2 separate regions of the Homo sapiens genome follow, and region 2 is linked to region 1. The links come from fine-mapping of genetic effects on plasma protein levels. A gene starts in region 1. The other region holds a variant in brackets. All regions are shown on one strand. Distances are from middle to middle.

Region 1 (11,975 bases):
CAGGGGTGGAAGAGTCCAGGTTCAAATCCTTTCTCTGCCACGTCCCAGTCTTGGCCTCAGTGTCTTCTTCTTTAAAATGGGCACAGGAATCTATTCCCTTCCCAGCCCACTCCTCAAAGGCTGTTGTGAGGAACAATTGCAAGACCCCTTACAAACTGTAAAAGACCTCTGCAGAGGGACTTGAGGACTCAGGCAGGGTGTGCTGTCCTTAGGCATCTCCTCTAAAGCTCCCTGCATGCATGAGAGCCTCCTCTGGCCTTGGGTGAGAGGCACCAGGGACCATGACTACAGCCCTCACTCTGGGGAGCCAAGCACATACTCTTACTGTTGCCAGAGCCGCCACACTGCCAGAGGAACCAGGGCTTTCCTTTCTGCCTGCCTTTCACAAGAATGATGTGGCTTGCAGGAGGGAGGATGGCTTCTAGCTAGCCCAGTCTGTGAATGTGGAAGCTTCATCCCCCTATAGCTCTTCCTTGCTGATACTTGTTTCCTTCTGCTTGTGCCAGCAATAGCCCTAGAATTGCACAAATCCAACCATCCAAGGGCTAACCAGCAGGTAAGACAGTCACCCAGATGCACATGGTCACAGGAGGCAGTACTGTGGGGTGAGCAAAAACAGTACCAGAGGGAGACTCAAATGCCCAGGGGTCTCGCTGCCAACCACTTGAGCTTGGGCAAGTTGCTAATCATTTCCTTTTTATCTGCAAATGAAGATGATGACCGCAGCCTCGCATCCTTGGGGTGAAGGGAGAAAATGGATGTGACTGTGTTATTAACTGTGTGGATCTGTACAAATGAAAGGGATCAATATTATTATTATAGTGTGTGGTGATTTGTCCCCCTACCTCGTCAATTATATCGATCATTGATGGCTGGAATGAAAAAATCTTCCCAAATCCCTCTGAGATTTCTTTAAAGTTAATGGTGCTAGGGAAAGAAAGGATATCAAGTCATTCCCCAGGACCCCATCTGCTTGTATTAAAAAGCACATAACCAAAGATTTTAATAATCAACACACTGAACAGCCCTGATAATTTATGCTAATAGTCACGTTATGATGTGGAACAAGAAACAGCTTAATCCTGCTCCCTGCAGCCTCTGCCTCAGATCTCCTCCCTCAGCATGAAAGGGTTTTGAGCACAAACCCCCTTCTTTGTCCCTCTCACGAAGTGGCATGCGCTGCCTCTCCTGGTTACCTGGTAACACACACTAGCACAGACCTAGGTTTCTAAGTGGAGCTGGAATTTCAACCAAGGTGAATTTTCTAAGATTCAGGGTCTCAGGAGCTCACCGAAGCTGCCAGGGCTCAATGCCCTGGCGGGTGCTGGCCGGGACCCTGTTCCTATCTAATTTATCATTTGAAACATGACATTAACTTGCTGTCCGTAGGACCCCAACCCTCTCCCAATGCTAACAAATAGGGTGCACACACTGAACTATCCAGCCTTTAAAGTAATGAGAGCAATAATAATCATCATAATACTAAGGCCATACCACCTTACCAGTGAGAAGCTGAACCAATAATTCAGAATGTATCGAAGACCCACGTATGAATAATTCTTACTGTTGGAAATTGCTTTTGCATCCTTCTTCTTCCTTCTCCTCCTCCCCCTCCTCCTCCTCCTCCTCCTCCTCCTCCTTCTTCTTCTTCTTTTTAGACAGGGTCTCACTCTGTCTCCTAGGCGGAGTACAGTGGCATGATCATAGCTCACTGTAGCCTCGAACTCCTGGGCTCAAGAAATCCTCCTGCCTCAGCCTCCCAAGTAGCTGGGACTACAGGCACATGCCATCATGTCCAGCTAGTTTTTAGAATTTTTTGTAGAGATGGGATCTTGCTGCGTTGCCCAGGCTATCCTTGAACTCCTGGCCTCAAGCAATCCTTCCACCTCAGCCTCCCAAAGTGCAGAATGAAGCTTCCCCCTTCGGCCTTGCACCCAAGGCTTGCAGTGGCCTACCCCAAACTACTCTGGGGTGTCATCTCCTTTCCCAACCATCCTACCAGGCCTCGGCCCTATGGGCCCACTTGCACACCCACCAAAGGGCTCCCACCTCTGAGCCTCAGTTCATGCTGTGCCTCCCCCTTGCTAGCATTGGGATTCTCTCCCCATCCTTCAAGGCTTCTCTCAGGAGCTATAGCCCAGTGCTAAATAGAGGGACAAGTGACAAACCTTGGGAAAAACAGGAAGGTGGACCCAGATTGAGAAACCCCCAAGATTCAAGGCTGGCGGGTGCACAGCACCTTACTGATCAGGTTGCTAGCGGCTAGCTGTGCAGCGCCCATCTGAAAATAGCGAGGCAGGCCAGGCATGGTGGCGCACGCCTGTAATCCCAGCACTTTGGGAGGCCGAGGCGGGCAGATCATGAGGTAGGAGATCAAGACCATCCTGACTAACACAGTGAAACCCCGTCTCTACTAAAAGTACAAAAAACAAAATTAGCCAGGCGTGGTGGTGGGCGCCTGTAGTCCCAGCTACTCTGGAGGCTGAGGCAGGAGAATGGCGTGAACCCAGGAGGTGGAGCTTGCAGTGAGCCAAGATCACACCACTGCACTCCAGCCTGGGTGACAGAGTGAGACTCTGTCTCAAAACAAAACAAAACAAAACAGCCAGGCAAACCTACACTGGAGCCCTTTCACAGCTGGGACCAGCCAGGTGGCTCCAGGGAATTTCCTTCCATGTGCCTCAGCTTTCCCTTCTATCAAATGGGAAGGAGACCTCCCCAGGACACTTGTAAAAATCATGTAAAAAGATGGGTGCAGCCCAGGGATGGTATCTCATGTCTGTAATTTCAGCACTTTGGGAGGCTGAGGTGGGAGGAGTGCTTGAGGCCAGGAGTTCAAGAACAGCCTGGGAAACACAGTAAGATCCTGTCTCTACAAAAAATTCTAAAAATCAGCTGGGCATGATGGTATGTGCCTATAGTCCCAGCTACTTGGGAGGCTGAGGCAGGAGGATTCCTTGAGCCCAGGATCACAGTGGGCTGTGATCAAGCCATTGTATTCCACCTGGGAGATACAGTGAGACCCTGTCTCAAAAAAAAAAAAAAAAAAAAAGGATGCAAAAGCAATTTCCAACAGTAAGAATTATTCATATGTGAGTCTTCCATACATGTGTGCGGATCAAAGGATCACTCTCATTATGTGGCAGTTTGGGGCATTTCAGGGCATAGGAGGAAAGGGCAGAATTTAAGCCTGAAAACTGCTTCCCCAGGCTCCTCAGAGGCATGTATAAGGGCCCTTCACACACTGTGAACAACATAATAAATACTTCCCGAGGCCTCATTCCATGAAATCTAGGTGCTTGGGTACCCAAGGAGTCAGGAGGGGTGATTTTATCATGAATATTGAAGCAGAACAGCCCTGCTCTGACTCACAGTCTGTTTTCCTTCAACCGGGATCCCCAGAGGCATTGTTAAAAAACGCTCCCGCTGTGTCTTGTGAATAAAAGATGGCTTTAGGGCAGCACAGAATGAGCTGCTGCCTGGGCTAGGAAACATCCCCTGTCCAAACCTTCATGCTTTATCTGGACACAAGGGCAGAGGCCACACTAGCACTTCAGGACAGAGAGTGACAGGCAAACAGTGCCCGGTTCTGTGGTGGATGACACAAAGGCTGGTGCGGAAGAAGGGCTGAACCCCGGGGAGGCCTGACGCCTGTCAGTAATGAGATCATGAAAACCAGTTCTGAGTTGCTTCCATGTGGCCCCACGAATATCTTTATTCCCTGGGTCTGTGCCTGGGGTGGGCCTCAGATCCCATAGATCAGAGTGAAGGGGCTGTCACATTTACTTGTCATTTGGTAATTTTCAGTGAATTAGGGGTATGGAGTTTCCATCTGCCATCTGGCCTCACTCTGGTAACCATGGTAACCACCATCTGCCTGACTTAATACTATTAAGTCCTGTGCCAAAAGAGCACTGGACAGGGTGTTGGGACCAGGGAGCTGGTCATCCTTTACTGGTCACCCTGGACAAGGGCTCTGACCTTGCTGTGTCTCAGTCTCTTTCTCTGTATAACAGCAGATTTGGTCTGAATGTCTTTAAGGTGCCTTTCTCTTAGGAAGAGAATGCCACTCTGGGGAGAAATTATCTGAGATCATCAGCAGCATTTATAGTCTGAGGACCTGGTCAGCATTTCTTCTGTCTCCTGCATGTGGAGTTAAAAGTGTTACCTGTCTGGAGACAAAGAGAATTGCCTGTGAATTAACGGCTGAGGAAAGCAGTTATAAAAACGAGTGATAGGAACTAGCAAAAGGAAAGAGACAGGACTGTTTAAGTGCCACAGGGCGGAAACCAACTGTTCCGAGTGAAAGGGACCTCAACAATGACTCCACTGGGGCTGATATGGCCAGAGAGGGGAAGGGACCCGTCCAGGGCCACTCAGGGAGCCAGCGGCAGCACAGATGCACCCCCAGCCAGCTCTGTCCTCCATGGGGAGCTTCAGCTAGGAACAGCCAATGGTGACTTTCCTGTGCTCAACTGGCCACACACTGGTTTTACATTTCCCAGGACTGGAGGCTTCCTGCCCCATCTCCAACAACCCATTGCGTCTCCTGGACTTGGGTACATCTACCTGAACTACTTGAGAGGAAAGACTACTAGATACTTCTTAAGGCTTGGAAAGGTCTCACCCCACCCCAGGCTTCTTTCTTGAAGCTAAGTCATTACACTGACTTAGGCACTAAAGTCTGGACTTGGTCTCTGGGCTCAGGCCAGAATTATTTCCCAGAAGCCTGAACTCCAGGCCGAAACCCAGGCTCCTTGGGACTCACTGGCCACCTTCTCACTCACCCTAAACTCAGCACTGCCCACTCCAGGCAAAGTACACAGCGGCACTTCAAAACCTAGTGGGTGGAATACACTCATGCTTAGGAAGCCGGTAAAGCAGTGCTAACGTTTTGGTTTCTTTTTGTTTGGTTTTCAAAAGGTACATAAAGAGGGTGGGCAACTATAGCACTCAGAGATTATTTTACTGTGATGTTAATGAAGCTTAAGTTTCTAAGTCCCTAGCATTTCATAATAAGTTTCTAAGTCCCTAGCAGTTCTATTCCTTTACTTAAGGCAGGACTCTCCAAATTATATATGTTTTAGAAGCACGAAACCTGAGTCTGCCCCTAATAGCACCACAATCTTTTCAGACCTTACGTCTCCAAAGGTCTTACTTCTCCTGGATGGAGCTCCCTCAGCATCCCAGCTCAGCCCCTTCCCACACCGGGGGCCCTGGTGCTCTGGTGCTGTGGCCTGGTGACTACTGATTCCCCAGTCTGGAACTCATCCTCCTCCTGCATCCTCAACTTCCCTTCCTCCCCTATCCTCTACTTCCCTTCCTCCCCCAACCTCAACTTCCCTTCCTCCCCATTCAAACAATCCACCTAGCGCTGGATACCTGGGAACTCGGATCCCCCTCCTTAACTCCCAGTCTCCTGCTGGGCAAACATACCATGCCTACAAATAAGTGACTGCATCAGCAGGTACTTAAGTACCAAAAGGGGTAGCAGGCTCACCAAAAATTCGACTAGCACAGTGAGTGGCGTCTCCAAGGATTCTCGCCCCAGTCTCTCTGAGCACGAGGAGAGATATGAAATACTGCTCCCTAAGGGGAAACTGAGTGCCAGGCAGCGCCGTCCACCACTGGGCAGGGGGATCCTTCGCTCCACACCCCAGAGGGTTGGAATCCCTCCTTCTCTACCCACCCAATCCCCGACCCTGACTCACCGAACTCGCAAGGGCCGTCGCGCGCCTTGTGCAGGTGACCGGGGTGCGCGCGGGGCGTGTGCCGAGCGCGCAGGCGCAGCGCGCAGACGCTGGGGTACGAGCGACCGTCGGAGCCGCAGACGGTGCCGCGCTGCGCGCACACGCAGAGCCCGGTGCCCTCGGGCGCTGCCCCAGCGGCCTGGCTCGCGCATACCAGGCCGGGGCCACAGCGCCCGCCGGCGCGGCCCCCGCAGCTCGCGCCCTCGGCTCCCAGGCAGCGGGCGCAGCAGCCGCACTCGTCGAGCGCCGAGATCCCGGGCGCCGGGCAGGGCGCAGGCGCCGGGCAGCCCTCTGGCCGGCACGGACCACACTTGGGGCGCCGGCCGCCCACGTCGCGGATCCCAAGGCTCGGGGACAGCGGCGGCAGCAGCGGCAGCAGCAGCAGAAGCAGCAGCGGCAAGAGCAGAGACAAGCGCGGCATGGCTTGCTCCGGGACAGCGGCGGCGCCTCTGCTTCGCGCTCCGCTCCGCGCCCGCCGAGCAGTCACCGCTCCCGCCCCGCGGCCGCTGATTGGCCGGGCCTGCACCGCGGGGCGCCCGCAGACCGCTGCTCCAGCCCGGGACCCGCGCGGTGCCCGCGGCCCGGGTCTCCGAGCTGGAGGGTCGCCCCGAGAGCAGCTCTCCGACCTCCGATTGGACTCTTGAGGGAACCGAGACCCAGTCGGGGCGACAACTTGCCCGAGGTCGCTATGGCAGAGTCAGGATTGGATAACCGTACGGTCTCCGGATCCAAGGCTGGCTCCAGATAGTATGCCCGTAAATCCTCCCAGAAGGATGCGCTATTTTATTTAATTTTATTTTGCATTCAGTAGTTTTCAAAGTTTTATTTTATAAAGAGAATATATGGTTTAAAATGTAGATTTTACATATACATCTAAGGATGAAAAGAGGGTTACCCTACCACCTTGTATCCCCATCCTCCAACTCGGCTTCCAGAGGCCACTCTTGCTATCGGGTTTTTGTATATCTTTTCAGAAATTTTCTCTATGCCTATAAAAGTACATGTGCCTAAAAAAGCCCCTTCCTTTAAAACACACACACTCTGTTTCTCTCTCACACACACAGAGTAGCGTGCCATACACATTAGTCTGCACTTGGTTTTTGCACTTACAGTGTTTCACAGTTTCCCCACCTCTTGTCATCTGTGAAACTGGGTTTCTTATACAATCAATGGGAGCATAGTTCATTGGCTCTGTGAGTGTGTTTCTTAATGCTGCATAAAGTCATGGTACATCTCCGTCCACAGTGACTTTGTTGTGATGAGATATGGTGATATATTTTGGAGTTCATACAGAGTGGCCTTTCCACAGGGTTTAGTTGCAGTTATTTAACCACTTATTTTCCATCCTTTGGTTAATACGAATAATGCTTTGATGAAGTCTTGGTGCACAAGGGTCAGTGTACCTGTGGCTTACTGGGGAATGCATGTTGGAAAGATGCAGTTTCTTGTAGTCAGTTATTCATGCCGCCGTTGCGCCTTCTCTGGGCCAGGCTCTGTGCACACCATCCTGCCTGAGTTCTGGCAGGGCACCCAGACGAGAAACCTAAGAGAGTCTTGGCTGCTGGGATTTGATGTGTTGCTGGGTAAATGCACTGGATGGAGGGAGGGACTCGCTGAGCAGGTTTTATAGGAGACTTTTCCTGCCTTTACTGGCCACCCCTCATGTGTCTTGTGCTCTATTGTTTTTTCTTTGCTGAACTCCTGGAGATGGAGAAAGCCTCTTGCAGCCTGGGAAGACCAGCTACACCGTTCTTGGGTGGGGTTCATTTTGCTTTTCAAGCCCAGTTCCTTCCCAGTTTGCAGTCTTCTTATCCCCAGAAAGGAGCCTCTTCTGAGGCCACTTTATGTGGTGGTCAGAGGAGGGCCATCTGCCTGGTCCACGCCAGGCCTTACCTTACAATCAGCCACACAGAGCAGGGGCGGTTAGGCACCATGAAGGGGTGGTGGTAAGGAATAAATATAACAATGTTGGTAATGCACTCAGCGCAGCTCTCAGAACCTATCAACAGTGACTTTCAACCTGGAGGCTGCTGTCTTTACCAGGAGTGGCCTTTTAAAGTGCTCTCACCGCTTGACCCCTCTGTGCTCTTCCAGGAATCTCTCCTAAAAAAATGATCACTATGTGTGAAGATTTCATCCTGGAGTTGGTTACTATAGCAAAAAATAAATAAATAAATAAAATAAAAATAAAAAAAGTTAACGACCTAAATGCCCACCGAGAGGCAATCGTTAAATAAATTATGGTACATCTAACAATAGAGGATTATGCAGGCATTAACAATTAGAAAGAAAATATGGGTTAATAGAAATGAAAACATGTTTATAATACATTGTTTAGTAAAATAGCGGTTAAAAAGTGCACATCTAATGTAATGGCATATTTGTAAATATGTGAATGTGTAAACATGCAAAAATTTAAGATTGTTTTTAATGATGTGAAGGAAACCCTTTTTTTAAAAAAAAAAAAAAAAAGAGATGGTACCTCATTCTGCTGCCCAGGTTGGAGTGCAATGTCATGATCATAGCTCACTGCAGCCTCAAACTCCTGAGCCTCAAGCCGTCCTCCCCCACTCAGCCTCCTGAGTATCTAGGACTATAGGTGAGCACCACCACGCCTGGCTAATTTAAACAATTTTTTTTTTTCAGAGATGGGGTCTCACTATGAGAAGGAAACACTTATAATGTTAAATGAACAAAGCAGGATTTGCAAACAAAAGAGATAAGCGAACTCCATGCTGCTTTTCAGGGACAACTTTGCTGGTAAGTTCAGACTTTCTAATGGTTCATAGTTGTCCAAAGAGAGATCAGGCTGCTCCAGAGATAGTGAGGTCCTTGTCAAAGAAGGAGTTTAAGAATGAGTCTTGGCAAGGAGCATGGAGGGGGTCAGAAGTAGGGGTCAGGGGAGTTGACGTTTGATTACCTCAAACTGAGCCACCATTCCTGTAGTACAGTGCCCGACCCTGAGACCTGGACTGGACAAAACATGGTCATGATTGAGAAATAAATGTGTACAGAAATGATTTGCCTGCTTTTTATGCAGACATTAAAGGAGGAGTAAGTGAACGGTGTCATAATGAAATTAATGTGTGCTTAATGCAGGTTAGGATACACAATCTCACAGAGGCGCATTTACATATGATCTACATTCCTTTTAAATGGTAGGGAGAGTACTATGTATGCATAACGACTCTTTGAGAATTAAATCAGAAGACTCATTTTCCAACACTGAGCCTGTGGCATCAAAGCCCCTGTATCTGGGTGGAGAAAACATTCCCAAGCTTTGAAGGTGATCAGTCATGTCTATTTCCTTTTAAAATTGCCTGCAAGCCCATAGCCCAGCAGAGGCATTTGTGCTCTTTCATCTCTCTGGTTCCCAGAGTACCAGTTAACACTGTGGGCCACACCTGTGGGCCCCCTAAGATGATAGGAGAAAGTAGGGACAAATTCTCCCAGTCGGGAAGGGGGGTTGAGGTGCCTCTGTTGTCTGGCAGGTGGAGAGATCCCATGCACCTGGGTAAGTAATTAGGCAACAAGAATGGGTGTGATTTTCTTCCTCTTCAGCCTCCAGCCTGAAAACAAACACAACACAGGGAAGACTAGCCAATCCCCCATTCAGAGCAGATGTGTGCCCACCCGGCAGCTGCTGAAGTGGGTATGAATGTCCCATCCATTAATTCCTCCCTTGAACGTAGAGATAAATGGCAGATATTCTCTGTCCTTGGGGAGCTTCCAGCACAGAGGAAGAGAATAGAAGCTCAGTTGAGCAAAGGCCACTCCATAAATAGGCCATGGATTTGAACCTCAAGCTTTAATAGTCAGGGCAATCATAGATAGTCTTCTCCAAGCTAAAGGAAGGTGAAAGCCCTTTCTCCAGACCTCTGGTGGGCGATTACAGAGCAGAAGGCAAGGTGAATTTCTAGAGGGAAGTTCCATAAATGACAGATGGGATTTTTAGGGAGACAGATTTCACTTCAATATTGCATGCAAGGGGATGTAGCAAGATGTAGAACTCTGCAAAGATGGGAATTCAGATACTGAGCAGACGAAAAAGAATGGTAGAGGATTTGCTGTTCTGCTGTAAACCACTATATAACTTGGACAAATTAAAGAAAACAGCTATGGACAGGCACTGGACAGTGTTCTAATACAGGGCTGTGATCCTTGAGAGCGTCAGGGGGTACACAATGTGAGCCCCACATCTACCCAAGCATTCTCCCTGGGGACACTTTCCAGGCCACTCTGCAGGGAGGTGGAGGCCAAGTGGTCTCACTGGACAGAAGAGGTAGACATCAGAATTCAGGAGTAAGGCAGAGATTTGGGGATCTAGGACAGAAAATGAGGAACCACAGAGAGGGAATCCCACAAGTCTTAGACCTTTGGCTGACCCTGTACTGCACAAGTACAGGGCAAGACTTGAGGGAGGCTGCTGGGAGGTGAGAGCTGAGCAGAGATTTGGGGCTCACACAGTGCTGATAAGATTTTAGAGTTCAGGCCCACCCAGAATGAACTGCCCCAGCCCCCCTGGGGTTCTTTCTCCAAGCTCAGTGACACTAGCATCAGCCTAGTGGCACACCCTGCAGAGGTCTCAGTTTGAGCTCCAAGGACCCCTCTTATACGCATCTAAGTTTTAGTCATTCCAGCCATTTCCATTGTTCTCCTAGCCCTCATGGTGGTAGCTGCTTCACAGTTGCTACCTCCAAGTTGCCTAGTTAATAATTCCTCTTCTTCTTCTTTTTTTTGAGACAGGGTCTGGCTCTGTCGCCCAGGCTGGAATGCAGTAGCACGATATTGGTTTACTGCAACTTCTGCCTCTTGTGCTCAAACCATCCTCCTGCCTCAGCCTCCTGAGTAGCTGGGACTACAGGCATTTGCCACTATGCCTGGCTAAATTTTTGTATTTTTTTTGTAGAGACAGGGTTTTGCCATGTTGTCGATCCCAGTCTTGAACTCCTGAACTCAAGTGATCCGCCCACCTCAGCCTCCCAAAGTGCTCAGATTACAGGCATGAGCCACTGTGCCCAGCCAATAATTCTTTTTTTTTTTTTAATTATTATTTTTTGAGACGGAGTCTCACTCTGTCACCCAGGATGGAGTGCAGTGGCATTATCTTGGCTCACTGCGACCTCCACCTCCTGAGTTCAAGCGATTCTCCTGCCTCAGCCTCTCGAGTAGCTGGGACTACAGGTGCATGCTGTCACGCCCAGCTAATTTTTGTATTTTTAGTAGAGACAGGGTTTCGCCATGTTGGTCAGGCTGGTCTCGAACTCCTGACCTCAGGTGATCCACGTGCCTCGGCCTCCCAAAGTGCTGGGATTAGAGGCGTGAGCCACCATGCCTGGCCCAATAATTCTTTATATTACATTCCATTTGTAGGCTTGGCACAGTGGCTCATGCCTGTAATCCCTGTACCTCCCAAGGTTTGTGGGGAGGATTGTGTCAGGACTTCAACAGCCTGGGCAACATAGTGAGACCTCTTTTCTACTAGCAAAAACATGTAAAGTTTGCTGGGCATGGTGGTACATGCCTCCAGCTACCCAGGAGGCTGAGGTAGGGGGATCACTTGAGCCTTGAAGTTCAAGACTGCAGTGAGCTGTGATCAAGCCACTGCACTCCAGCCTGGGGAACAGAGCTGTTGCATGCCTGAAAAAGAAAAAAAGAGAAATGAATTCTATTTGTCATCTGACTAGGTAGGCCTGAGTGATCTAGCTAATAGAACCAGGAGTGGTCCCAGGAAACAACTGTCAAAGATGGGTCACAATCAGAGAACTAGAAAGCTTAACTATAAATATGCTTCAATAATCATACAAATTATTTATTTAAATGATAAATAAGAATACATTTCTTGCAGCTACAGGGTCAGTATTGCTGAAAATGACACAAAAAATGTAATTGTGTGTGTTGCATAATTATAAGTTGAATTCACAGGCTTTCCAGTCTCTTATGTGAAAGTTAGGGAATGAGAACCTGAGACTTGGAATGGAGAAATCTGGGTGGACTCAGATGAAGCTGAGAATCCTGAACCCTTGAGTCATTCTGAGCTTCCTTTGCCAATGGAAGCAGCTTGCCTGTCATGTCTGAGAAGACTCTCTTTCCCTTGCTTAAGGACCCTGTGTTAAGATCACCCAAGGCAGTTGCCTTGCAAGAGATACCTTTTCTCCTCAAAACCTAGGGCTTGTGGCCACTAGACTTTCAACTGACATCAGAACTCTATGTACTTGAGTAGGG
Region 2 (11,975 bases), 18 kb before region 1:
GAAGCCTCACAACCATCCTATAAAGCAGGTAGTGGAGTAATGGAGTTACCACCCCACTTTTTTCAGGTGAGGGAAAGGAAGTGGAGAGGTTTAATAGGGAACTCTTCTGGAATCAGTTCCCCATGAGCATGCACGAGGGACCAGAGAGCGGCGCATACTGGCAAGCACATGGAACCAACCCTCCAAGCCTGGAGAACCCACGGCAAAGCCCAGCAAGCCCTACACACCCAAGCCAGCCACTGTGCTGGATGCATCAGAGCTGCTGCTCAGTCCCACCGGTTCTCCTCAGACCCGGGGCCATTTAGGAACTTTCATTTGGGTTGGCTCCATTCTGGGTGTGAGGCTGACCTCTGGTGGCCACCTGATTCATTAATTCACACAAGTAACTCTTTGGTTTAAGAAAAAACAAAGGGGTTGGGTGGGGGGCGATGGTCCTGCTCTAGGCCTATTGTTGGGGGAAAGAGAATTGAGTAAGACAGTCCCTTCCCTGCAGGAGCTCACAGTTGGGCAGGGGAGACAATTACAGAGCCGGGTGGACAGTGCAGTGAGAAGCACAGAGGCCGTGAGATCATGAGCGGAAAGCAAGCCTCTGTATCAAGCACACACGGTGGGCCACCTCCCTTCATGCTTCTTTCTTTTTTTTAATTTCGTGATGGAGTCTCGCTCTGTCTACCAGGCTGGAGTGCAGTGGCGCAATCTTGGCTCACTGCAACCTCTGCCTCCTGGGTGCCTCCTGAGTAGCTGGGATTACAAGCAGACACCACCACGTCCGGCTAATTTTTGTAGTTTTAGTAGAGACAGGGTTTCACTTTCTAACTGCCATCAGGGCCCTCAGTATTATTCTTCTGCACTTGATAGACATCAAGCCTGGGAGGTGTTCAGCAGTGAGTGGAGACAGGCTCAAGCTCAGGTCCTCTGATTCTGCCAGACACCGCTGCCTCCCAGGGCTCCCAGCTCAGTTCAGGCACAGGCCCAGTGGGAGTGGGCATGGGGTCCTGCTAAATGACTAGCAGGGGACCAGAGGGATAAGGGAAGGATGCTCCTGGAGTCTGAGAAATATGGAGGGTTGGAGGAAGGGCAAGTTTTTCCATGAGGAGGAAAGAGGCAGGGAGGAAAAGCATGGGGGCAGGGGGCAGGCAGGGGCTGGACTGTGAAGGGGCTCGTGCATCCTTTCAGAAAGCTCACACTTGGTCTAGCAATGGGAGGGTGCTTTTTGGTTTTGCTTTTGTTTTTTAAACAGGGTCTCCCTCTGCCACACAGGCTGGAGCACAGTTGCTTGATCATAGCTCACTACAGCTTCAAACTCCTGGGCTCAAGCGATCCTCCCACCTGAGCCTCCCAAGTAACTGGGACTACAGGTGTGTGCCATCATGCTGGGTTAACTTTTTTAACATTTTGTAGAGATGGGGGACATCTCGCTGTGTAGCCCAGGCTGGTCTTGAACTCCTGGCCTCAAGCAATCCTCCTGCCTCAGCCACCCAAAGTGCTGAGATTACAGGTGTGAGCCACCATGTCTGGCTGCCCCCGAGGGCTTTTAAAGGAAAGTGATAGGATCACATTCGGTTTCTGAAGCTGGCTCTGCTTCAATGTGGAGGATAGATTGAGGGAGTTGACCTGGAGTCAGCACCTCTCAGGACATTGTTGCTTGCGCCCAAAGTGATGCTGGCACACCAGGGTGTGGGGTGGGGGCAGAGTCTGGACAGCCAGAAGGCAGGCTTCAGGGCATGATGACAGATGGACAACTTGGCACAAGAGAGGAGAGAAAGTTGGGTAACCTCATGTTTCTGGCTGCAGTAACCACGTGGGGGGTAGTGCCAGCCACTGCAACCACCCTGGAGGTTGCACGTTTAGGGACACGGTGGGACTCTTACTTATGTATTCCTTTGTTTAACACATTTTATGGAATGTTGTCTATGTGCTAGGAACTATTCTAGGGGCAGAGGATACAGCAGGAAACTAAAAAAAAAATAAAATCCTGAACATCCTTTCTGATAGAAGAGGCAGACCATATGCAAAACAGGTGAAATCGTTAGTCTGTCAGGAGGTGAAGGGTATTATAGAGAACAACAGTGCTGGGAAGGGAATAGGGAAGTGGGTGGGATGGAGTAGACATTGTAATTTTCAGTAAGGTGCTCAGAGGTCGTCTCACCAAGAGACTGGAGCATGCCTGGAGGCTCCAGGAACACAGGAGAAGGCCAGGTGGCTGGCATGGAGCAAGCCAGGTGGGGAAATAGGACAGAGAAGTCACAGCCTGAGGGGGGCAGAGGGCTGGTGTTTGGAGGTCACCGTGTGGATGGACTGACGGGGGCCTTTACTCTGAGGAAGGAGCCACCAGAGGCTTTTGGGCACAGCGGCAACATGATATGACTTGTTTTAAAAGGATCACTGGGGCCGCTATGTTGAGAACAGTTTGTAAGGGGAGCAAAATCATTTGACCTTAAGAATGCCAACAAGGAGTGAACAGAGAATGAGGAGGAGCAGGAGGAAGACCCAGGAGAGATGAGGCAAGAAGCCAAGGAAGGCGGGGTACTTTCCGGGGGAGGGAGCCCCCAGCAAAGCCTGAGGCTCCCAAGAGGTCAAGTAGGAGGAGCACTGAGCAATGTCCCTGGCTGCAGCCACCAGGACTCCCTGTAGACCTTGGTAAGAGCAGGTGGTGGAGTTGGGCACAGAAGCCAGAAAACCTGGGTTGAGAGTGTCACTTAATCCTCCCAAGCGCCAATGATCTGTACATTAGTCCTGGAGTTAGGAAGACCCTCAAGGGAAAGCAAGAAGTCCTGGTATGAGGCCCTTTGAGAGCCTCTGGTGCATCCCACCTCACTTAGCCAGAAATGTGGACAGAGCAACTTGGACAAGTTGCTCCCAGCCAAGCGTTCTTCCCATGTGTACTGGCATAATGTTAGCCGCCACAACAAATAACCCCCCAAATTTGAGGGTTCAATACGACGACTATTTAGTTTTGCTTATGTAACAGTCTAATGCAGGTACCTGGCAAATTGGTATTTTCCTTCCACATGGAGATTCAGGGACACCGGTTCCTTTCGTCTTGTGGTTCCACCATGTACAACGGTTCTTAACCTTTTTTTTTTTTTTTTTTTTGAGACGGAGCCTTTGCTCTGTTGCCCAGGCTGGAGTACAGTGGCGCGATCTCGGTTCACTGCAACCTCTGCTTCCTGGGTTCAAGCAATTCCCCCTGCCTCAGTCTCCCGAGTAGCTGGGATTACAGGTGCCTACCACCATGCCCGACTAATTTTTGTATTTTTAGTAGAGACACAGTTTCACCATGTTGGCCAGGCTGGTCTCGAACTCCTGACCTCAGGTGATCTGCCGGCCTCGGCCTCCCAAAGTGCTGGGATTACAGGCATGAGCCACCGCACCTGGCCTGTTCTTAACCATTTTTATGTTTTGCGTTCCTTTGAAAAGCTAATCAAAGCAATAGACCTTTTCACCATGAAAAGGATGTACACGCACATGCACACAGTTTGCACACTTTCAAGGAGTTCACAGAATCTGTGAATCTACCTATAGAATCCCAAGGGGTCCAGGGATCCAAGTGAAAACCCCTGTCTGGGGCCTCAGAGATCTCCGTGTCAGCTGGTAAATGGGGAAGAAAGTGCAGAAAAGGCACAGTGACTTTTTGAGAGCCCTGGGCTCTGCATGGAACACATCGCCTCTACTCACATTTCACTAGCTACATGACCCAGCCTAGGTGCAAGAGGAGACGGGAAGTATAGTCTGTGACAGGACAGTTCAACACTGTGGAAGACCCTCGGTTTTGCTGGCAGTTCGCCCCAGCTCTGCCGCCCATGGCACGTCCGTGGAGATATGCCAACAGGAGACTGCTTCTCACAAGGATGTTTTTTGAGTTTAATGCTCTCGTGGGTCATTTGCTGCCTCCCATCCAGCCGTGCTCACACTGTTCCTTTTTCTTGGAGCCCTACTTAAGGGCCACCCCCTCCAGGACAGTTCCTCTGAACTTCTCATTTAAGCAATCTCACCCTTTGAGCTAACCTTTTGCGCTAACAGCTGTGGCAGCACATGCTCTCTTAGCCTCTGAAGAGGTCTCTGGGCACCCTTCATTTAGTCTTGTACTGAGGCAGCTCTCGTTGGTTGAAACGGGTCTAATGTTTTTGTCCTGCTAGACTATGTCTCACATACTCTGAGCATGTTTGATTTATCTCCCAGCCCTCTCCCACCGGCACACAGCCCTCCAAGATCTGTGCAGAACAGACAGTGCATGGCCATTCACACATGGGGCTCTCAGAGCAACAGGCCAGGGCAGGGATGCCACCCTTCCTGGATTGAAGAGGAAATGGAAACTCTAAGAGTTGATGAAAGTGACCCAGCCTTGCAATCTCTGACAAGGCTTGACCTTAGTTCTGGGTCTTCCAACTCTAAAGCTAGTGCCCTTTCCACCCAAGCAAGAGCTGCATACACCTTCAACAGCAGAGAGACGGGGCATGCCACTTGGCACCACAAGCAGCCTTCTGTGCCGGAGCTGAGACTCCGAGGTCTGTGGGCAATTGTAGACCCTTTGCTACCTGGCGATGCCTGGTGCACTGGAGGAGCTCTGCAAATGTGTGATGGGTGGGTTTATGCATGGAGAAAAGAGGGGAGACTGTTCCCCCACTCCCTAGTACTCAGGATTTTTACTCTTCCCTCGAGAATCAACCGTTCCCTAATATAGGAGGGGAGATGTAGGCATGAGGAAGAGACAGCCACAGTGAAAGTCAACACAGGGAAGTCTGCCTCCTTGGACCCACGCACTTCTCACTGCTGGATGCAATCGAGGCTGAACTGAAAAGGAGCCCTGGCCGTAAACGAGTTCACGTTCCAGGAGAGCGGTCAGCCCCAGAGAGCCAGAGCGTGGGCAAGTGTTGGTGTCCATCTCAGCCCTGGGCACTGGGCTTCCACGTTCTGAATTCATTAAACTGAGACACCAGAGCACCTGGCTTTCCCTTAATTAATTAAAATATCATGGAATAATCATTGTCTGATGTAATGTTCAAGAAGCCCTCGTAAAGGCTGGGAAGGAGGAAATTCATTAGCGGAGACTTTTACTGTCGCTGGATCTGCCGTTCTTATTCATTTCTCCTGCACCATCCGTCCCTGGAGGAGAGGGCAGGACAGTGTTTTTAAAGATGTTGGAATTAATTTCACCATAAAACCTGAAAGAAAAAAAAATCCACCTTAACTAAAAACTAGCCTTATTTGTGTTTAAGGGGGAAAGCAGATACATTTGGGATTGAACATGGGCTGTGGAATTGTCTTCCTCAAGCCCAGCTGACAACAGAGACAGAGATTCAGTCTGTCCACTGCTTACGGCAACAAGTTCAACCTCCTCTGTCTGCATTGAGGG[G/A]TGTTGCCCCAAACTACTACCCGCCCACCACCATAGCTCTGAGCAGCAGCAACTGGCCATTCCTCCCTGTTCACAAACTACACTGCATTTTTCTACCCCGACTCCTTTTTGCATGCTGTTTCCTTAGCCTGGAATCCCCCACACCCACTCCTGCCAGTTCAAATGCCTGCCTCCTCTTCTGGGAAGTCTTCCTTGATCTCCCTCTGCTCTAACCACAAAGCAGACACCATATGCTGCCAGGGATGGTGACCTCATCCCACCCATGTCTCCACTGGAGTCTGAGTTCAGGACCTGATTCTACCTACTTTCATATGGGAGGAATCCAGATGATTCCAAACATATGACTTTCGGCATCTTGTACCTGTCTGGCACCTGGAGAATGCTACTGTGTGTGTGGGAGGGGACAGAGCACTATCTCAGCAAGTGAATTAAGTACTAGAATGCGTACACGGCAGGACACACATAGTCAAGGGCAGTAGTGTAAGATGATTAGGGCTGGTTAAAAATTTCGGGCAAGGTGAACGGTGGGGCTGCGATCGCAACCAGGCGTGGGAGGTAAGGAGGATCTAGACTAAGTAGCTGAAGTGGGCATGCAGAAGGAAGGACAGGAGGCATGAGGGATGATAAAGGAATACCAGTGGGACCTGCACCCACCTATACAGCATTCCTACAACAAAGACACCACAAAGACTGTCCTTAAAAACATTTATTTTTTTCAGGGTGCAGGGGTCGTGACATCATGACATCTACAAAAACGGTAGAAAAACCCAGGTTTGGTGCGGGGAGTGGGGGCATTGTAATTACGTCTCCAAATGCTAACAGCTGTGGCAGCGCATGCTCTCTTAGCCTCTGAAGAGGTCTCTGGGCGCTCACACTTGAAAAACCATGAGGTTGGAACAATCATGTTAATGCGCCTTTTTGGTTTTGGTGAAAATTTCAGACAGTGTGACATTAATTATTTGTCTTTGCACAGAATGATGATGCTAAAGCCAGCCCCATACAGTCCTGATGCTCAGTACTTCCAGCATGGGCTCTGTCCACCCTGCTCTCTGGGTCTACATCCAGCCCTTCAGTTTTCACTAGGCAAATCTGAGGTGAGTCAACTGAGTTTGCAAAATGTGCTTATTAGCAGGTGTGGGATGTTCTACTACCTTCTTCAGAGCCACAGCATTCCTGTTCCTTCCCACATCATTTCACTAAGGGTCTGACCAACTCATCTCCCAACCATTCAAGACACAGGAGAATTAACTGCAGGCCTTCACACATGGAAGTCAGTCACAGTGCGTGGAGAAGGGAGGGGCGGGAGGGGCTGAGTGAGGAGTGGATGTGAGCAGGTCCCCTGGCAGCTCCAAACCCCAGTAGACAAGAACAGCTTCCAGTGCCATCCATTTCAATTCTCATCTTTTGTTTTCAAAGAGAGCTTCCAGTGTTTTAAAGTTTGAAAACCACTCATCTAGTTTTATTCCCTTTTTACTCAAATAAGGACACTGAGGCACAGAAAGTGAAGGAGACTTGCTCAGGGTCACACAGCGAGCCGGGGATTAATATGCAAATGGATCTCATGTTTCCAGAATCCCAGGCCAGTCTCCTTCTGCTGCATAGTACAGAAGGTGATGCCATCCCAATATATTAGACATGGAATGGCAGGCTTACAGGCGGAAAGTTCACTTCCAACAAGGACTCCAAAATGTAATGCACAATGTGAGCGGTGTGAAAGTGTGCCTTAAAAGTTGGGATGAGTCTTGATAAGAGTCCCTGAAGCCTGTGGATTGGCAACATCTGCCTTTACATAGTTTTGAGATGACCCTGAGTAGCAGCACCGTGGAGTAGAGAGGGGACCAAGGAGGGCCAGGTGCCCTGAGCTCTGCTCCTCTTTCAGAGGCCTTCAGGCCTTGGGCAAGTAGCTTCTCCTCTCAGAGCCTGGTTTCTTCATCTGCTAAAGGCAGGGACATTAACACCTGTCCTGCCCCATCTCCCAGAGTTGGGATCAAGCTTTATGAACTTAAAGGACTGTGCATAGTAAGGGCTCTCAATTCTTATTTTAAAATTGTAATCACCTAAGGATCTATTTTTTTAAGATAAGATAGCAAATATTCTCCTTTCTTTTTTCATTAAAAAAGAAAAAAAAGAGAGCCTTACTCTTGGGTGAGGTCAAAATGTTTGTAGGTAAAATATATTCTACTACAATCTAATTCCACAGTCTGGAGATAACACCTGACCCCTTTTTTTACAATTTGATCGTCAGAAGCCTGGTATCCACCGCTTCTAACCACCTGTTTAGAGAATGCTAGGCTAGGCCAAGCACAGTGGCTGATGCCTATAATCCCAGCACTTTGGGAGGCCAAGGCAGGAGGATCATTTGAGCATAGGAATTTGAGACCAGCCTGGGCGGCAACATAGGGAGACCCTGTCTCTACAAAAAAAAAAAAAAAAAAAAAAAAAATAGCTGGGTGTGGTGGGGCATGCCTGTGGTCCCAGCTACTCAGGAGGCTGAGGTGGAACGATCACTCGAGCCCAGAAAGTGGAGGTTGCAGTGAGCCATGATCACGCCACTGCACTCCAGCCTGGGTGATAGAGCGAGACCCTGTCTCAAAATAAAATTTTAAAAAAGAGAATGCTAGGCTAACAAATGGATGCTCTGGTCTCCAAAGACCCAGCCAAGGCGCTCCTGAGTCTGGTAAAGCATCCCACCTAAAACTAAATCTCCTTCAAAGGGAAAAAGTTAGGAATAGAAGAGCTACAGCCAGCTGTCCACACGTTGGGGTAAAGCAATGGAATTTGTTTCTGAGGGAATACCATTTTAGAAAGAACACTAAGACCACACTTCCTGTTATTTTCCCAAAAGGCCATCTTAATCTAGGATGGCAGGGCTAAAAGGGACATTGATAACATCCAGTTAAAATGCCATACTCACAGATGAAGGGACCAGGGCCCAGAGAGGGGAAGGGATCTGTTCAGGTCACACAGCAAGTTACAGTCAGGCAGAGGACAGCTGGGACCCTCATCCCTCCTTCTACAACACACACTAAGTCACAGAGCACCACTAATAGGTCATAGACAAATGAGGTAAAGAGTCACAGCTGACACGAGCCCTTTCGAAATTGCAAACATGCCGTTCTGTGATCTCCCTGGAAGAGAATAATTACAAAAAGACTTCTCATGGAACAATTCATTTCAAAAGTATAAAAAAGCCACATGCAAATCCGTTTCTCACTGTTTGCCCTGCTAAAAACTACATCTGCATACAGATCTAGTTTGCATCTAATTTTTAAAAACACACAAAAGGGGTCATCTACACACACAGGTTTTCCAACTCTTCATGAAGCACAAAGATCCGTTATTTGACTTTTCCATCATCCCATGATCAATGTTTCTAAGACCCTAGGAAGAAAAGGAGAGAAAGAATTAGAGAACGTAAGCCTGCTCCGTTACAATCAACTATGTGTTACATGGAAGGTGGGGGAAATGATCCTTCACTTCGAATCTCTCCCCAGCAGGAAATGGTGCCAGTGGAGAGTGAAGGGCCCTGTGGAGTCCCAAGAAGTACTTTTAAGACCAAAAGGTGGACGTTTCAAAGCAGCAGACTCCAGCTTAATAAGATCTTTTCAACCATTGGAAAATCCACAGATGGCTCTCAGTGGTAGTGAGCTCTGTATCCCTGGAGGTATGTAAGCCAGAGCTGGCAATACTGTGTGTCACAGAAGGAACTCAAGACCTAGGCAGCAGTGATGCTCTTAAAATTCCACAATTTTTCATGGTATCCTTTTGATGTATTCACAACCCAGAATCATTTCTGCCTCAAAATATACGTGTATTTGAAAATTATAGATATATATATTTAAAACTGGAAACATATCTATATAAAACAAGTCACATATCATCAGGAAGACAATTTTAAGACCCAATCTCCTAACTCTTTGTTGAATTCCTATTTCACAGTTTTACATTTTCATATTTTTCTCCCCATTTCTAGGGCCTCTAACTACTCACGTACACCCATCCTTCAATCCTCATGCCACCTCCTCGATGATTCTTCCTTCATTTTCCCCAGTTCTAAGCTGCTTTTCATGCCTTAATATCTCCTCCCATTCCCTTACATCGCACTCCTTGTATTATAATTATGTCCACTTTTTGTTTTTCTGTGATCCCCTACAGACCAGAAGTAAGGCCTTGCACACAGAAGGTGTGCAACAGTAGTGGCTGAAAGAATAATATAACTAAAACCATGGCAAAATCCCCCTGCTTTTGAGAAACCCTATCAGACTTGTTTCTAATTTTTCCTGTTCTATTAAGCACCTGTTGATCAGCCTTGGTAATGGTGCCTGTTCACCACTGCTCCCCCATTCCTGTAAGAGGATCGTGCAGGCCAGGCACGGTGGCTCACGCCTGTAATCCCAGTACTTTGGGATGCCAAGGCGGGCGGATCATGAAGTCGGGAGATCAAGACCATCCTGGCTAACACGGTGAAACCCCGTCTCTACTAAAAATACAAAAAAATTAGCCAGGTGTGGTGGCGGGTGCCTGTAGTCCCAGCTACTCGGGAGGCTGAGGCAGGAGAGTGGCGTGAACCCAGGAGGCAGAGCTTGCAGTGAGCCGAGATCGCACCACTGCACTCCAGCCTGGGTGACAGAGTGAGACTCTGTCTCAAAAAAAAAAAAAAAAAATGATTGGTCTGTAAATGGGCGGGGCACACATCACATCCGAGCAGAAACTTTAAATGCAATGGTGTGTGCAGCCTGGCCACAGAACGGACATGTTCCACACTGGAGCTGTTCCTCCAGCTGGGTCCTGAATGAGGGGACACATGGGGCAGGGCCACAGCCAGCTCACAGCTATAACATGGAACATGAGCAAGTGATCAACGTCTGTGGCTGTGAACCAGCAAGATTTTGGGATTTTTATGAGCAAAAGCTGGCTTATAAAGTGATCCCTTTCCCGAATTCCCAGTTCACCTGTAGGCAAGGAACAGATGCAACCCCAGCTGTCACCTGTGTGACTACAGACTAGGAGGCCTTGACCAGAGGGGATGCAGAGATTCTCTCTGCCCCTACCCACAAGGAGATGTGTTGCAAAGCAGCACACAGTGCTGAGGACAGGAAGGCAAGGCCTGAGCCCCAGGAAGGAAGCTCAGGTGTCCTGAACAAGGAAGAGCTCCAGGAACACACAAAGGAAGCTCAGGCATCTTCTTTGTGGGAACATTTTCACATGGACGCTGTCACAATGACACTGTCTGCTACCTCTCTCAGTGCTCTTTCTAGAAGAATACAGAGGAAATATTCCCTCCAGCCCCAAAACACAACTGGTCTTTTCATCTCATGGACACACATCATGTTCACAGCTCTTGTCTTTGCATGCTAAGAAGCTCAGAGGGAGATGTGTGCAGAATATACCAGGGATTCTACTGCTCATCTAAGTATGTCCCTACTCTTCTTTTGCTCTTTCCCTGGTTTCCTCCATTTACGTATTTTTCTTCTTTTTTTTACAGGTCTTATAAGCCACCTCAAATATCTCATAACATGGGTGTAAAATACTGAAAATGACTTAGAACATGTACATTTCTCCATCACATGCGGTCATCGGGAGCTGGGAAGTGGAAGCTCCTGTATTTACTCAGATCTAGAACCGTCACTGTGCTGTGGGACTCAGCCTCTCCCACCATGTTGGCTGCATGGCACTGGTACACACCCTCATCCTCCTTTCGCAGGGGGTTGATCTAGAAATACAACAGGCAAGTTTATACAGTTATATAAGGAACAGCAAAATGACTTCCTTAGTTAGTTCTTAATGATAAGTCTGCACACTTCCTCCTTTTCAGAATAAGGTAAAACTTGCTCTATTTCTCTCCTTGCATTGGCTGCCAAGGAGCACGCAGGTAAATTTCCTTCCCAGGGACCCTCTTGAAAGGCACGCTCCCTATTGTGGCTCTCATCTGAATGATTCCTCCGCACACCTGCCTTTTACTGTGAGCTACCTGGTCTTTTGTATTAAAGGTGCAAGGTATAGGTTATTTGGAAAACACCTCAAGTTAAAAGAAGAACAAAAATCTACTGACCAAAGAATGATCCAGAAAGTATTCCCTATAGGGGCAGCCTCTACAAAATACCACCAGAGATAACCTCTTTTCCCTGTCTTTTCTCCTAAGAAAATAGAGGAATGTGCTTGATTTGAAAAAACCGCACAGCCAATTGCATTCCCAATCTCTCAGCTGGGTGGAGAAGAGTCACCAAGCCTCCCAGAGCTGTGGGTGGAATGAGGAGGTTGTCCTTAGGGAGCACCCCAAGGATGTTCACAGCCAGGTCCATAACCAGCTCGCGTCTTTTTTGCTTTCTCGTTACAACCAACCGCTTCCATCAATTACAAATCATCCTACCGACCACGCGCTGGTGTACGCACATCAGCTCGTTTTAAACTCATGCCAGTCGTGGGGGAAGGGTGAGCATTATGGTCTTCTTTTTACAGGAGACTCACAGGTAAATCACAGACTGCCAGGGCCACAAAGGCCCTCAGAGGTCTTTCAGTTTGAAGCCCTCTTTCAACAACAGTGGAAATGGAGGCTCAGAAGGGTACAGTGACGACCCAACATGGACCCCTATCTCCTCATTCCATCACTCTTTCAAAC

Alleles and levels. Alleles are on the strand shown, and positions count from the first base shown. The strength of an association depends on the size of the effect and on how common the allele is.
In carriers of allele A in region 2, the plasma level of the protein whose gene starts at base 6,201 in region 1 tends to be lower than with G alone (moderate association).

The links. PIP is the posterior inclusion probability: the model's chance that the variant is causal. Protein levels are from antibody-based Olink assays in UK Biobank. Linkage for the fine-mapping came from a reference panel and not from the study's own genotypes, which makes the PIPs less certain.
Region 2: its variant is fine-mapped to the plasma level of the IGFBPL1 protein (UK Biobank, PIP above 0.99).

Annotation. Positions count from the first base shown.
Region 1 is chr9:38,418,254-38,430,228 of GRCh38, forward strand. IGFBPL1 (insulin like growth factor binding protein like 1) reads right to left here and starts at 6,201. Exons shown (of 5, transcript NM_001007563.3): 1 at 5,712-6,201. The coding sequence starts at 6,171. LOC105376041 (a long non-coding RNA gene) reads left to right here and starts at 6,358. Exons shown (of 8, transcript XR_007061487.1): 1 at 6,358-6,497; 2 at 8,397-8,510. RefSeq lists an enhancer at 7,246-11,525.
Region 2 is chr9:38,400,481-38,412,455 of GRCh38, forward strand. It overlaps IGFBPL1 (insulin like growth factor binding protein like 1), which reads right to left. Exons shown (of 5, transcript NM_001007563.3): 4 at 10,911-11,069; 5 at 6,048-8,737. The coding sequence ends at 10,920. Among named protein-coding and RNA genes, the nearest start is that of ALDH1B1, 14 kb to the left of the region's middle. The variant G/A (reference allele first, on the strand shown) is at 5,357.